Linked DNA regions of Homo sapiens. The protein of the gene in region 3 purifies or fractionates together with the protein of the main gene of each other region. This does not show direct contact. Each region holds a gene or a part of one and is shown on either strand. Other genes may lie near its edges.

Region 1 (3,500 bases), on a different chromosome or scaffold from region 3:
TGCCCATCCCCACTTCTGGGTCCTCCTTACTGACCCGCGACATCCTCTCCCCACCTTTCTCCCTCTCTCTGGGCACTACAGCTGGTCACTTCCCACACATGGTCGCATGAGTAGAGGCTTAGCAAGGAGTGCGTTATGGAGGACAGATTTCTGCTACTGACTTCGCCGAAGTGGATCCACAGCTTCCATTTGGCTCAGGCTCTTTGGGAGAATTTCACTTCTTTTGTTACCTCTAATCTTACCTATGTGTAACCACACATTTTGGTCTTTTTCTTAAATCTTTTAGATAATCATCAGATAAGTTTACTTACCTGTTATTCTACTACTTTCTGCCTTGCCTTTTCTTCAGGCCACCCCCAAGTGCTATAACCTGCCCAAAGGTTAGGACATAACACCGCTGCCACACGTTTATCTCTGGGCATAACCACGATGGCATAAACACCAGCATTCCCAATTTTTCTTTGTCTCTTCGGAATGCTGACAGGCAAAGAAGAGCATTTTCTTTAGTCTCCAAATGTGTGGCTCACGCCTGTAATCCCAACACTTTGTGAGGCCGAGGCAGGTGGATTACCTGAGGTCAGGAGTTCAAGACCAGCCTGACCAATCTGGTGAAATCCCGTCTCTACTAAAAATACAAAAATTAGCCGGGTGTGGTGGCAGGAGCCTGTAGTCCCAGCTACTCCAGAGGCTGAGACAGGAGAATTGCTTGAACCTGGGAGGCGGAGGTTGCAGTGAGCTGAAATTGCGTCACTGCACTCCAGCCTGGGTGACACAGCGAGACTCCGTCTCAAAAAAAAAAAAAGTGATGTGTGCTTATTAAAATTGCTGCATGTATTTACTAACAAGAGTGAGAAGATTGACAAGTTTCAAAACATGATTTAGATTCAGTTTACTTGGCCAAGTGTCTCTCTCTCTCTCTCCGTAATACATATATTTCAAGGAAAATATTAGATATTACAAAAAGCCACCCTCATCTTTTACTGTCTTATCAAGATGAGTTATTTTTTCCAAAATATCAATTTTTAGGATTTGATTTTCCTACCAATTATTAAGATAGACCTTTAGGATGGAGTGAAAATATTTTAGTATCAGTTAGTTTATTCTAAGCTATGTTTTTTTTTTTTTTAGTTTTTTAAATCTTTAAAATTTTACATGAGTTATCAGTGAAACCAATATAATCCAAGATGTTTCTCTCTCTCTCTTTTTTTTTTTTGTTAGAAAATTGCCCCACAAATGGTTTAGGCAAGGTAAAAACCAGAGGTCGATAGGTAGATTCATACATACCTATCCCTTGTTGCTGTTCTTGGTCAAAAATTAAGGTGAGGAGTTGCCCTGTTGTACTTCTGTTTCAGATTAAGACTGTGGAATTACCCCATGAAATTGAATGTGTATTTTCTCCATTTTAGCACTGTAAAGATCAGAATTCTGTATCTAAAAACTTGTCTAAGTCTGCAATTCTTTATAAAGGGCCAAGTCCATGTTTTTAACCTCACTCGAAGTCGTCCTTTGAACATCGGCTGTCCCTGGCAAATAATGATTGACTCTGGGCGATTTGTCTCCACTGACATATCCTTAACAGGAATCAAAAGTTACGGCAGCTCCTGAGTTCAGCGGTCCCTACGCGAGTAACAGCAGTCTGTGAGTTTACATAGTTGTGGGTCCTGGCTGAGTCATTTTATATCTCACCATGTGGCTTCTCTCTACTCAGTAGGTGAGTGGAAGTGTCCAACCTTAAGCAGACTTTTCTGGAATCAACAAAACCATGTTTTTATTGCTGCAGCCTTGGCGAGGAATCCAGAAGTTTCGGGTTGGCTTTGAGGTAGCCATTCTGTTGTCTGCACATCTAACGTGCATTCCCATGCCTGTTTAAGGTGGACTTTTAATAATCTAAATGGCCCCAGTAGAAGACATTTCAGTAAATTGGGGAATGCCTATACAATGTAACAGCATGTAGCCATGTCAAAGTCCCGTTGAGGAAGAATACTTAGTGACTGACATGGTTTGCACCTGTTCCCTCCAAACCTCATGTTGAAATGTGGCCTCCAGGGTTGGAGGTGGGCCTAGCAGGAATGTTTAGGTCATGGGGGCAGATCCCTTATGAATGGCTTTGTGTCGTCCTCACAGTAGTGAGTGACTTCTCACTTTGTTAGTTCAGGCAGAGTTGGTTGTTTAAAGAGCCTGGGACCACCTCCTCTCTCGCCATGAGATGTGTGGGCTCCCCCGGGCCTTCCACTGTGCGTAAAAGCTTCCCGAGGCCTCACCAGAGGCCGAGCAGATGATGGTGCCGTGCTTGTACAGGCTGCAGAACTGAGAGCCAAAGTAACCCCTGTTTTCTTTGTAAATGATCCAGTCTCAGGTATTTCTTCATAGCAGTACAAAACAGACTAACATAGAGACACTGGAAAGTGTTTAATAAAAATGCTGGGTAATAGTTACTGAGCATAAACGATGTGCCAGACACATATGTTCATAGATTTCATCCTCAAAAACTACATGCGTGTTTTCCCAAGTTCACAGAGTGAGTGGTAACCACTAGGCACCTCTGCCTCTGTACCATGTATCACCTCCTTTTTATTTTCTAAAACAATGCATAGGATAACCATCACAGTTTCTATCCAACATTACATACACATACGTGTGTGTGTATGTCTGGCTCTCTGGAGGCAAGATGATGGGTGATTTTAATTTTTTTCTTTGTGCTTCCCAGTTTTTCTGCAGCATAGATGGATAAATGTTATAAAAAGAAAAAAAAAGAGTGGATGTCCTTAGCACTAGGTATGTTTAGACCAAGTAGGAAGAGAAACAGTTTCAAATCAGAATAATGATCCACCTTCCTACAATGTGATGTGCCCTGATGTCTTCATTACTGGGAGAAATTAAGGACTGACCACAGTCGACTCTGCAAGGGAGACCGGTTTTTGTGCAGTTGTTGGACACTTGCAGGTGACTTGCTCAAGGTCAGGATGAATCTAAAATAACATTCAAGCTCAGTTAAAGAAGTTTTTTTTTTTCCTACAAAAGTACGTATTTAGGATGCTTTGCCCAAGCTCCGCTTTCTTTTTTATTACTCTGAGAGCTGCTTCCCTTGCCTGAGAATCCCCAGACCTCCTTACCTCTGTCCTGTGACTAATCCCCACTTGTCAATCATCTTGGAGAAAAAATTTCCCTCCCTGCATCATGACCATCCTTGTTTCACATATTAAAGCAGCTGAAAGCACTAAAACTCTTTTATTCCACAAGAGGCTCTTCCCGCCTCTCCCCAGTGTGGAGTTGAACCCCTGCCTCCGTGCCTCCATTGTGTCCTGGCAGCACTGTGTCCTGGTGGCAGCATCTTCAGCAAGTTACTTGTTTTGTTTTGTTTTTACCTACCAGAAAGTGAGTTCTGCAAAGGCAGGGACTCATCTATCTGACAGTCTGTGCTGCCCGTGCATTGCCGGCACGCAGGGTGCTTTCCAGAGGGAAGTGACACACGTGCCTCTTGTGAATCGTCATCTTAGGCA
Region 2 (3,500 bases), on a different chromosome or scaffold from region 3:
TAGACATTAGGAAATAACTATACTTTCATGTAATACCTATGTGAGTTAACTTCTTAAGAAATAAGCTTCCTTTTTTTCTCTCTTTTTGAGAATGTTCATCTGTTTCTGCAAATAGCAGCTAACAAAACTGACATTTCAAAAGTCATAAAAGTTTTTATTTTCATGGTTTTCAGCTGGGAGGCTGAACTGAATGTCCTGCGAAATTCTCTCACTAACCATGAAAGCATTAAGCTGAAGTGACACTTCTAATTGGGGAAGGAAAGCAACTGAAGAAGTATTATAGCCTATGTTAACATTTTTTTTTTTTTTTTTTTTTTGAGATGGAGTCTCATTCTGTCGCCCAGGCTGGAGCACAGTGGCACGATCTCGGCTCACTGCAACCTCCGCCTCCTGGGTTCACGTGATTTTCCTGCCTCAGCCTCCCGAGTAGCTGGGATTTCAGGCGCCCACCACCACGCCTGGCTAATTTTTTGTGTATTTTTAATAGAGACGGGGTTTCACTATGTTGGCCAGACTAGTCTTGAACTCCTGACCTCATGATCCGCCTGCCTCGACCTCCCAAAGTGCTGAGATTACAGGCGTGAGCCACCGCACCTAGCCCTTAGCCTATGTTAACATTATAGTGAGGTACTGTGGGTTAAGAAAAAATTAAATGACTCAACCAACATTATTTCTTACTGCGTGTGTGTTTTTTAATTCAAAATAGTGTAACATTTTCTCTTTTTGGAAGACAAAAAATAACTGAAATAAATAACTGCTAGAGATTGGCATTTGGGTGGACAGACAGAGACTTAGAATCTAGTGTGGGCGGTTTGGCTTTCCTTCCTACTCCTTTCTTTTCTTTGCCCCTCCCCCTGACAACTAAATCAAAAGCTACAATTTGTGTGTGTTCTATCTAAGCTCCAGAAATCCCTTAAGAATGGCCATTCATAATGTTAGCTATATTTAGAAACAGGGAAAACTGCACTTTGCAGTGACAGTTTATTTTTGTATGTAGCGGATTTTGTTGTTCAGAATGTTTTAACATTTATGAAAATGATCACTGTTTTTGATCTATCTGCAAATTTCCACAGAGATTCCAAATGATTTTAGATATTGTTTAAAGTTAGGTTTTCCTAATATAAAACTTACTCAGCAAATGCCTGACTTCTCAATCTCAGCATTTTCTCTTAGATATATTATAGCTTAATTTGGCTCTTTTAAAACAGTCAACCTGGAATTTGAAAGTAGTGGATGCCTGTCTAATAATAATCATCTACATGTAAATGTATCAATATTTATATCCATTGTAGGTCTGTGCTTAAAGCAGTGGACACAATGAGTGTTATACCCAAATCCTAATCCATTGAATATGCAGTTATCAAATATATGCCCTGTTAGAAGACTATGGAAATAAACGGAAACCCTTCAAGTTTTGACTTTGTTTAAGAATACTGTATATCTCTTCTATATGGTTTTGAATCATATGTATCAATAGAATTTAAGGGGAAATATTGCATCTACCCTGTAATAATAGAATATATGTAAGAACATATAAAAGGAAAGCTTATATACTTTGTGAATTATGTATGTGTTCTTCTCCCTGTCTTGAGATTCTTCATTGTTTTTAGTATCCTAAACTGGGTAGAAATTAACATAGAAGAAAGTAAATACGAACCAAATGACTTGAATGCTTGATCACAATCTCGTGAAGTGAAGAAAGGCAAAAGTTGGAACCAGATGGAGGTTTCAGCTTAGCTGTGAATTTCACACATCTGCAGTGCATTCCTTTCTGCCAGTAGAGGTGAATATACACAGTTAAATCTCTCTAGACAAGGACCAGACCTGTGCTTCATAAGTTAAAGGAAACTCCACTTGCGAAATTTCAAGTCATGTTAATCAGAATGAATGATGCCATGCTCTCCTTGCATTATAAAGAGCCGTTTACAGAACAACTGTTATGTCTTCTTGAGGAATTAGTTTCATTTAAGTTCTTATCTTTATGTCTTTTTAGAAAGTGCAACAGTATACGTTAATAATTCAAGCTACAGACATGGAAGGCAATCCCACATATGGCCTTTCAAACACAGCCACGGCCGTCATCACAGTGACAGATGTCAATGACAATCCTCCAGAGTTTACTGCCATGACGGTGAGTACAGCCTGTCACTCACACAACTTTGGGTCTGTAGTTCGTTACTGAGAAGGTTGGTCATGAATAATAAATGTGTTAAATAGAGGTGGAACTTGCTTCACCTAATAGTAGCATGGCTGCTAACTCGGACATTTCTGTCATCAGGGCCTTACGTGAGGCATCCAAGTAATTTGTTTCTTCGTAGTCTTCAAGTCCACTGTTAAAGTTGTTAAAATAAGCTGCCTGGAAAACACGTCCTAAAAAGACTGTGCTGTTACAACAAAATGCTTATGAATATTTTCAGGTGCATGAGCTGCATGACTGATTTATGCTACTTTGTCAGCATATAATTATCCATATCTGGAGTAAAATCATTTTGCACAGACAAGTTCTTTCCCCCACCCCACCATAATCACCCAGAGACTCACAAATGGATGCTGATTTTAATATTAATGAAACTGTAAGGTAATTTGGAAAAAAATTGGACTACTGAAAAATGTTACAGTATTTTTAAAGTCAGACATAAATGCTGTGATTACCTGCATTATCAGTCTCCTCATTTAGTGTAGATAATAAAAATCTAATGGGGCAGTAAAATCGGACGGTGTGGTCATCAAGACAAGTTGTCCTTCAGTGGTCCATGCCCCTCCTCTGACTGAGGTTTGTCTTTCTCGCAGTTTTATGGTGAAGTTCCTGAGAACAGGGTAGACATCATAGTAGCTAATCTAACTGTGACCGATAAGGATCAACCCCATACACCAGCCTGGAACGCAGTGTACAGAATCAGTGGCGGAGATCCTACTGGACGGTTCGCCATCCAGACCGACCCAAACAGCAACGACGGGTTAGTCACCGTGGTCAAAGTAAGTGTTCCTCGGGCCACTGATCTCTCCAACAGCTGCTCAGCAAGGACCAATATATGTCCCCCACTCATTGTTTTGCAATGGAAACTTAGGACGTTTTTCTTTCAGACATCTCCAGATGTGGGTCTGATATATATTTGGGAGGTTATATCTTACTGTTTAATTTATGCTGAGGCTAAGGCCAACATCAGTACTCTCACATCATCACTGATGTGAGGGTTTTTGAATGAGTTTTATGATGAGAGTTTTGTGAGAGTTTTTGAATGAGAGTTTTGAGTGAGAGTTTTGATGATTGTTTTTGAATCAGTTTGGACAGTTTTTACCAATCTGAGGATAGGACTGGCCTGAACAACATTAACTGTTAGTGTAGTTGATATATTCATGATATATCACATTCTGAAATTTTGATCACCATTGATAGCTATTAAGAATGATGCCTCACAGCTGCTATTTTCATGTCTACAGCTATTAGAATATTGGCAGATAGTGAACAAACCAGAAAAGCCATAGAAGAAAAATGTAAT
Region 3 (3,500 bases):
GTTGAACCCGAGGGTATGAACATTTTGCATTTTATACAGGTGTGCTGTTTTTACCCCTGCTAACAGCGTTTGAGAGTACTCGCTTCGTGGTGCTGAGGGATGGGCAGATTTTTATAATGCAAGATCAACATAAAAACTAAGCAGCCTAAAACCGGAAATTAAGAACCCCATGAGGCCAGTGCCCTGACTCACGCCTGTAATCCCCACACTTTGTGAGGCTGAGGCAGTTGCTTGCGCTCAGGAGTTTGAAACTAGCCTGGGCAACATGGCGAAACCCCGTCTCTACCAAAAATAGAAAAAGAAAAAATTAACTGAGTGTGGTAGCACACACTTGTGGTCCCAGTTACTGGGGAGGCTGAGAGGTGGAGGTTGCAGTGAGCTGGGATCGTGCCACTGCACTCAAGCCTGGGTGACAGAGTGAGACCCTGTAACCCACCATACAAAAAGAACCTCGATACCCATACAGTGATACCTTGCTCCTCTCATATGGGAGTCTATTAAGAGCATTCTTTGGGTACATCTTAGTGTATTGACTTAAAACGATGTCTCAGGATGCATGGGGAAAAGCAGTAGGTTTGGCGTGGCTCAATTTCTACATTAGAGACAAATATAAATATATTTTTAACTGGAGCTCTATATGTCTAACAGCGGCTCTTTCAGGAGCAGAGGCTGCTCACTGACTCAGCAATTATTTCAGTGCCCACTCTGCACCCAGAGCTATCCCAGGCCCTGGGAATATAGTATAAAAGATTTCTGCTCTTATGAAGTTTGTAGTCTACTTTGGGAGAGATGGACCCAAAAAATGTGTTTAAAGAGAATTTCAGAGATGGATGTCTATTACGAAGCAGGTAACAGTGTAATGTGACTAAAAATGACTTTAGATGTGACCACATTTTTATTGTATATACTGCTAGATGTGATTATGTTATGGGATCCTTTCCGTTTCTACATTTTGGGTGTGTTTGAACTTTCGATGAGTGTGAATTCCTTTCGTAATCAGAATAAAACATTATAGATAATAAAACCCATTGTAAAGCTTTGAAATGAAACCCTTGACTCCTAGCTGGTATCCTGCAGGTCTTGACTCCTATTTTTTTGTTTGTTTGCTTGTTTTGTTTTGGCTTTTTCGAGACAGAGTCTCGCTCTGTCGCCCAGGCTGGAATGCAGTGGTGTGATCGTAACTCACAGCAGCCTTGACCTCTTGGGCTCAAGCGATCTTCCTGTCTCAGCCTCCCGAGTAGCTGGGACTACAGGTGTGCAGCACCATGCCCAGCTATTTAAAATTTTTTTTTTTTTTTTTTTTTTTTTTGTTGAGAGAGAGTCTCCCTGTGTTGCCCAGGCTGGTCTTGAACTCGTTGGCCTCAAGCAGTCTTCCTGCCTTGGCCTCCCAAAGTGTTGGGATTACAGGCGTGAGCCACCACATCTGGCCTGGGTCTTGACTCTTAAGCACCTTAGGTCCCCGGAGCAGGCATTTCCATCTCCAGGTTCAACTTATCATTGTGGGGGTTGGGGGGCTATGGGCCAACTTGAGATGAACAGAACAAGACGCGGTGAGGGTACCATGGGAAAAGGAAGCCACCCCCATTTCCAGAAACTCTTTAGGCTTGGTTAGCATCGTGAACTGCAGAGCAAGCCTGGGGCCTGTGTAGAATGGGGCCAGGGATTGAAAAGCTGGAGGAAGGAGTGGGTCTGAGGGTGGGAGCTTCCTTTTTTTTTTTTTTGAGATGGAGTTTCGCTCTTGTCCCCCGGTCTGGAGTGCAGTGGCTCAATTTCGGCTCACTGCAACCTCCGCCTCCCGGGTTCAAATGATTCTTTTGCCTCAGCCTCCCGAGTAGCTGGGATTACAGGCGCCCACCACCACGCCGGGCTAAATTTTTTTTTTTTGTATTTTTAGTAGAGATGGGGTTTTGCCATGTTGGCCAGGCTTGTCTCGAACTCCTGACCTCAGGTGATCTGCCCGCCTCTGCCTCCCAAAGTGCTGAGATTATAGGCGTGAGCCACTGCACCTGGCCTGAGGGTGGGAGCTTCTGATAACAGCATCCCATGAGGGGTGTATGTGCATAGAAGTGGGAAGAACTGGGGAGGCGGATTTGAGGGAAGTGAGTCTGACCTGTCTCATGCCGCCTGTCTGCCTGGTATGGCCTTATCTTGCCCTAGTGTCCGCTAAATGCCCGTGTCTCCTCTCTGCTCCACCACAGATGCCGTGCGCGAAATTCGGAAGTATGATGATGTGACGGAAAAGGTGAACCTCCAGAACAATCCCGGGGCCATGGAGCACTTCCACATGAAGCTTTTCCGTGCCCAGAGGAATCTCTACATTGCTGGCTTTTCCTTGCTGCTGTCCTTGTGAGTGGGGGGTTGAGGGGGCAGGTGCTGTGAAAGGAGCCATGGGCTAGCCATGGACACCGAGCTCAGTGGGCTCAGTCTCCCCCCTGTGACTTTGATTCCTCCTCAGTCTGTGGCCTGGATCCCAAAGCCCTGTCTGTGTTAGGGAAGCCACATAGTTTTCTCCTGACCTCCAGAGGCAGCGTGGAGAGTAGGAGAGGGCTGCCTGAAATATCAGAAGACCCTCACACACCACATACTCTCAGGCAAACAGATGACTATCTCACGGTCTGTTTGCATGGAGAGTGAGATGTAACGGTAAGGCCTTGCCCTCCTCTGGGAGAGGACCTTCAGAGTCCAGCTCACAAGGGAGCGACTGAATGGGGGACTCTTTGTGTCCGGGGTGTTGACCTAGGGACAGCAGGTAAAAGTGGCACGAAGAGGCTGGGCCTCTCCTCACCTCAGGGCCTTCCCCACGTGAAACTCGTAATGAGGACATGTTACATTCCATGGCAGCCAGAGTATTTCTGATGATTTTTTTGGTAAAACTAAGTACCTTAATCAAGGCTAAGGGTAACTAGTCGGGCAAAACTAGACCACTACGAAGTGCCTATTTGAGCCTGGGGCCCTGTTTGCTGCCTCCTGCTTCACATAGCCGTTCTGATCAGCAGGGCCTGGCTGGGAGGTGGATGGGAGCTCAGACCATGTATGAAGGCATTGGAAAGGCGCTTGCTTTGAGGGTGGAGCTCTCATCACTTAATCACTTCTCAAAAGACCCCACCTCTTAATGCTACGGCAGTGAGGATTAAATTCCAACACATGAAGTTTGAAGGGCACTCAGACCATAGCACCAAGTGATTCTCAGGCTCATGGACAGTTATTCCCCACTTGGTTTTGTGCCCCGAGACTCAAGAATCTCCATGCCTAGGAGATTCTTGCTCTCTAGTCACCTGGTGTGTCCTGCTTTACTAGGCGCTACGATGACTACTTGTCTTAAAATCTGTTGTTTAGATGATCTGGTACTCTCTGCGACCAAGTTGGAAAGAGGGGTGGAGCTAGAAAAGGCAAACACATTTTTTTCAAGATAATGGGTTTGATCACAGATTTGATCTACAAGCTTGCTGTCTTCAAACTTAGGAAAGTCAGGAAGGCTGGGAGGAGTCAGACACATACCC
Region 4 (3,992 bases), on a different chromosome or scaffold from region 3:
CAGCTAACAAGTAGCAGAGCTGGGATTAAACTCAGAGTTCAGCTCCAGAGTACACACTACAATGATGGAAGGTGACATGGAGGAAATTTTGAAGGGTGTGTAGTGTACAATGCTATATACTACCTTTCTACTAAATAAAAACCCAATCAATTACGGCTTAAAAAGTATAGGCTTAACCAATGAATCATCTGGCAAAGGTTTTATATATTTTATAGAAAAAGATACCCATAACTTAGGGGAAATAAAGACAAACAGGAATCTTTTTGTTAGCGAACATAAAGATGGTCTGAGGGTTATTAGTGTCATTTTAAATTGCTGCCTAATTACAATTAAATCATTTATCTGTGTATGAATTAGCCCCCTACAGAGCCAAAGTTGCCATCCCTTTCAGTGGTTTGACACACACACCCCTGGGGCTCCACCCCCAGGTCATTTTTCACTTCCAATGAAATGTCACCCAGCAAACTTTTCAAATCCCTCCCAGCACCTACTATGAGTGTGGACAGAGGCAAACAATTCAATTTTATGAACGGCCTGCACATAGAAAGGCAAACAAGAAGGATGGATAAATTATCCATGACAGAGCATCCATCTATAACAGATGAGCTAAAACAGAACTGTCCCAATTTGGGTACTGCTACCATTGAGGTCACTTACATGACAGGGCTGGACGAGTCTGCTAATTTATCAAAATCCTGCTCAACCCAATGATCACAAACACAAACCAAACACAAAAGGCCACTATTGCTACTTATGGCCTGCCCCATCTCCCAATTAATATCTCTATACTGTGTTTAATATTTCCAAAACTAGGATCCAACACCAGGAACTTTAATTCCTCACATGTGATAAAGTGCATAAACCGCTGAAGCATATAGTCTTCCACCCTACAACGTGCCCTTCAAGATTTCCTCCATCTCACCTTCCATCTCAGCTGCCTTCGTTATAATGATTTCCCTATGGAGCCCAAATGAAAAGCCAGGCTCGCAGGGGTCACATCCTTCTGCTGCCAAAGCTCGTGCTATATCGCACAATTACACCATATGCTTTCTCCAGATAAGGACGGGGAAGAACTGAATTTAAGATGCAGAAGTAAGGAGATGCATAAAATGGCCACTTTTCCAGAACCCGAGACAGGCAGGGCATACTTAAACATCAAAAGCAAGGGACTCAAAGAATAATTAATAAAGGCAGATTGATGAAGGAGATAAAACAATAAATAGATTATAAAGTTTTCCAGAGTGAGATACTATCAAGAATAATTAAACCTGACTCAAAGAATCCTCAGTTTCAACGTTAAAAAACAAAATCTCAGCAAAGCCAAAGTATTATGTTTGGTATTACATTATTCAGCGAAAACAGCAGTCTTTGTTTCATCTGCAGTCTGCATCTACCCCGCCTGCTTTCCCCTACCCCACCCCAGCCCACCCCACCCCCTTCCATCCACCGCAGTGATCTTGAAGGGAGCTGCAGAGGCCCTAAAGAAACAGAGATAACGGCTGTAGGCAGAGGCCACGTTATCCAAACCTCACCAGCCCGGTCTGACCCGCCGAGTCGCCAACCTCCTTCCTAAGGCCCTAGTTCCAAACAGGCCTGGCTGGGGGCCTCCCGCTTCCCAGGGCCGCATCCGCCCACCACAGGCCCACAAAGCCCCCACAAATGCCAGGACTCCGCGGCTTCAACTTCCCTCCGAACCAATTCCAGTCCGATTTTATGGGATCAGGGTGTGACCCCCAACTGCAGAAGGCAATGAAGAGACTGCGGCGAGCCATTCCCAGCTCGCTTACACAATAAAGGGATCCCGAGGCGAGTGCTGACCCTCCCCCCGGCCGTCCTGCTGCAGCGCGCCCCGCCACATTTCCCGCCTCGCCCCCTCAAACCGCCTGGGCCTCGCAGGGCGTCCACCCCCGGCCTAGGCGCTCCACGGAGGGCGCGGCAGGACGCCCTCCTCCCGCGCTCCTTCCCCGGCGCCGGCGGAGTCCGACCCTCCCCACGCCCGCGGCCGGCTCCGGAGCCCCTCACCCGCCGCGCGCTTCCCCGGCCGCGCAGAGCCAATGCCCTCCTGTCCCTCCACCCACGGGTCGGGCGCGCGCCGCCCGCCTTCCAAGCCCATGGTGAACCCCTCTGGTGCTGCGGGGGACCGGTCGCGCCAGGCCTAACCCACCCAGCAACCCACGCAGGGGCCCTTCCTGCCCAGCGCCCCCCCACCCTACCGCCGGGACTGCGCTTTCCAGCCCCGCTTAGAATCCCCTCTCTTCCTGGGAGGCAGACACTGGCTCGCGGGGCACGCCGAGACCTCCGCCGGGACACTAGCCCCTCGACCTCGCGCCCCCAGGGATCCCACCCACCGAGAACCTGGTCCTCACGTCCCCACCCCCAGATCTCCATCCCCCAGCCCCCCAGGGGTCGCCCTCCTGCACACCCAGGCCCTGACCCCCGCGGGTTTCACAAGGACTTCATTCCCCGCTCCTCCGGGAGTCTCTCCATCTCCACCCACTGAGGTCCCAGTGCCCCCAGCCCAGGACCCTGCTCAAACTAACCTAAGGTCCCCGCAGCACAAACCCTACAGCTCAGAAGCCCCTCTGTCTTCCCCAGCTCCCGCTTCGGTCCCCCGTTCCTGTCCTCCAGAGCCGCCCGGGACCCCTCAGCCCAGGAGCCATTCCTCCCTCCACAAACTGTCCCCCAGCCCTGGGCCGTGCACTCGGACCCGGGTAGCCGCACCTCTCACCTTCAGCCGAAGATGGTGGCGCGGGCGCACGTCCCCAGCCGCGACCACAGATCCAGCGCCTCAGTCCCAAACCCACCGCTGCCTCCGCCGGGCTCCTTTAGCACTGCTGCTCGGGGCTGCCCCACCCACCCCTACCCTCATTGGGCCAGCTCCACGCCCATCACCGCCGCCCCCAGACCCACTGGTTGGTTTGCGCGCCCATCTCCAAGGGAAGACGTTAGCAACCCGAACGAAGCTACCTTCCCGAGTCCGGCTCCCTCCACCCACCTGGAATGACGCTCATTGGCTCCCGCTCCCAGCCCAGGCCACAGAGGCCCCAATCTCATGGGCTGGCTCTTACGCCCGTCATAGGCTCCGGGAGGTGCGGCCGGGGCAGTGGCGCGGGATTGGCTGGCTCGTGCGTAGATGGACAGCTGAGGCTGGCTGAACGCCCGGCGATCCCGCGAGGCTGCGGGTGCGGGCCCCGCGGCGGCCGGCGCGCTGCGCTGACATTGGCTGTGCGGGCCGCGGGGCAGGTGGGCCGCGGCAGGAGGCTGGCGCTCTGACTGCAGACTCCTCGTCCTAGCGTCAGGCAGCCGCCGCAGCCGCAGCACATTCGAGCGCCCGGTCGCCCCCTGTGCTTGCGGCAGCCGGCATGTACCGCAGCGGGACGGGGTTCCACCGCGGAGTCGCGGGCCCTCAGCGTTGCCTGCAGGGGCGGGGCGGAGCGCGGTCCAGAGTCCTGACGTCACCCCCGGGGCTGCGCGGGGTTGGGGCCGCGGCGCTGCGACTCACCTGCAGTGGGGGAAGGAACGCGGGGGAGGGCGCTGCTCCGCCCATGCGCACAGGGTTTGGCCCGGGACCCGGCTGCGCTCCACGCTGCGGCCACTGTCCCGACCCCGGCCCCAGGCGGACTCTGCCGGGATCGGCCGAGCGCCAGGCGCAGGACACGGTCCTCCAAGGTCGCAGTTTTGGTGTTAGCGGGGTGAGAGGCTCTCCTGCCCAGCCTCCAGGCAAGGCTGAGATTCCAGAAGAATGAGAAGAGAACCGACCTTGGAGAGAAAACTTGGAAGAAACTTTATTCACCTCATTCATTCACTCGTTCAGTCGCTCCTTCATTCATTCATCAGAGCTCCCTACGTGAAGGGCTATGAGAGGTTCTTAAGAATATAAGGCTGGATTCCTGTAGCGCTGTCATATCCCCTAGGGCTTATGAAAACGTTGGAGACTGAAAAACAGTGGCCCCAAAATAACGAAAGGAAACTGGAAAAATCAAAGTAAATAA

Evidence for each region. Proteins that work in one complex are often made in the same cells at the same time.
Region 1: the proteins of BCAP31 (region 3) and CYB5A purify together in Homo sapiens (co-immunoprecipitation; 4 studies listed by BioGRID and IntAct, with this or other methods). This does not show direct contact.
Region 2: the proteins of BCAP31 (region 3) and CDH2 purify together in Homo sapiens (affinity purification with mass spectrometry, with the first as the bait; one large-scale study listed by BioGRID). This does not show direct contact.
Region 4: the proteins of BCAP31 (region 3) and MYH10 purify together in Homo sapiens (affinity purification with western blotting; 2 studies listed by BioGRID, with this or other methods). This does not show direct contact.

Annotation. Positions count from the first base shown.
Region 1 is NC_000018.10:74,264,464-74,267,963, reverse strand, and holds part of CYB5A (cytochrome b5), read left to right. Parts: intron 1-3,500.
Region 2 is NC_000018.10:27,992,131-27,995,630, reverse strand, and holds part of CDH2 (cadherin-2 isoform 1 preproprotein), read left to right. Parts: intron 1-1,993; coding exon 1,994-2,131; intron 2,132-2,790; coding exon 2,791-2,976; intron 2,977-3,500. UniProt on the Homo sapiens protein: Calcium-dependent cell adhesion protein; preferentially mediates homotypic cell-cell adhesion by dimerization with a CDH2 chain from another cell. Cadherins may thus contribute to the sorting of heterogeneous cell types.
Region 3 is NC_000023.11:153,714,388-153,717,887, reverse strand, and holds part of BCAP31 (B-cell receptor-associated protein 31), read left to right. Parts: intron 1-2,198; coding exon 2,199-2,346; intron 2,347-3,500. UniProt on the Homo sapiens protein: Functions as a chaperone protein. Is one of the most abundant endoplasmic reticulum (ER) proteins.
Region 4 is NC_000017.11:8,627,926-8,631,917, forward strand, and holds the start of MYH10 (myosin-10), read right to left. Parts: upstream 2,801-3,992; 5' UTR 2,729-2,800; intron 1-2,728. UniProt on the Homo sapiens protein: Cellular myosin that appears to play a role in cytokinesis, cell shape, and specialized functions such as secretion and capping. Involved with LARP6 in the stabilization of type I collagen mRNAs for CO1A1 and CO1A2.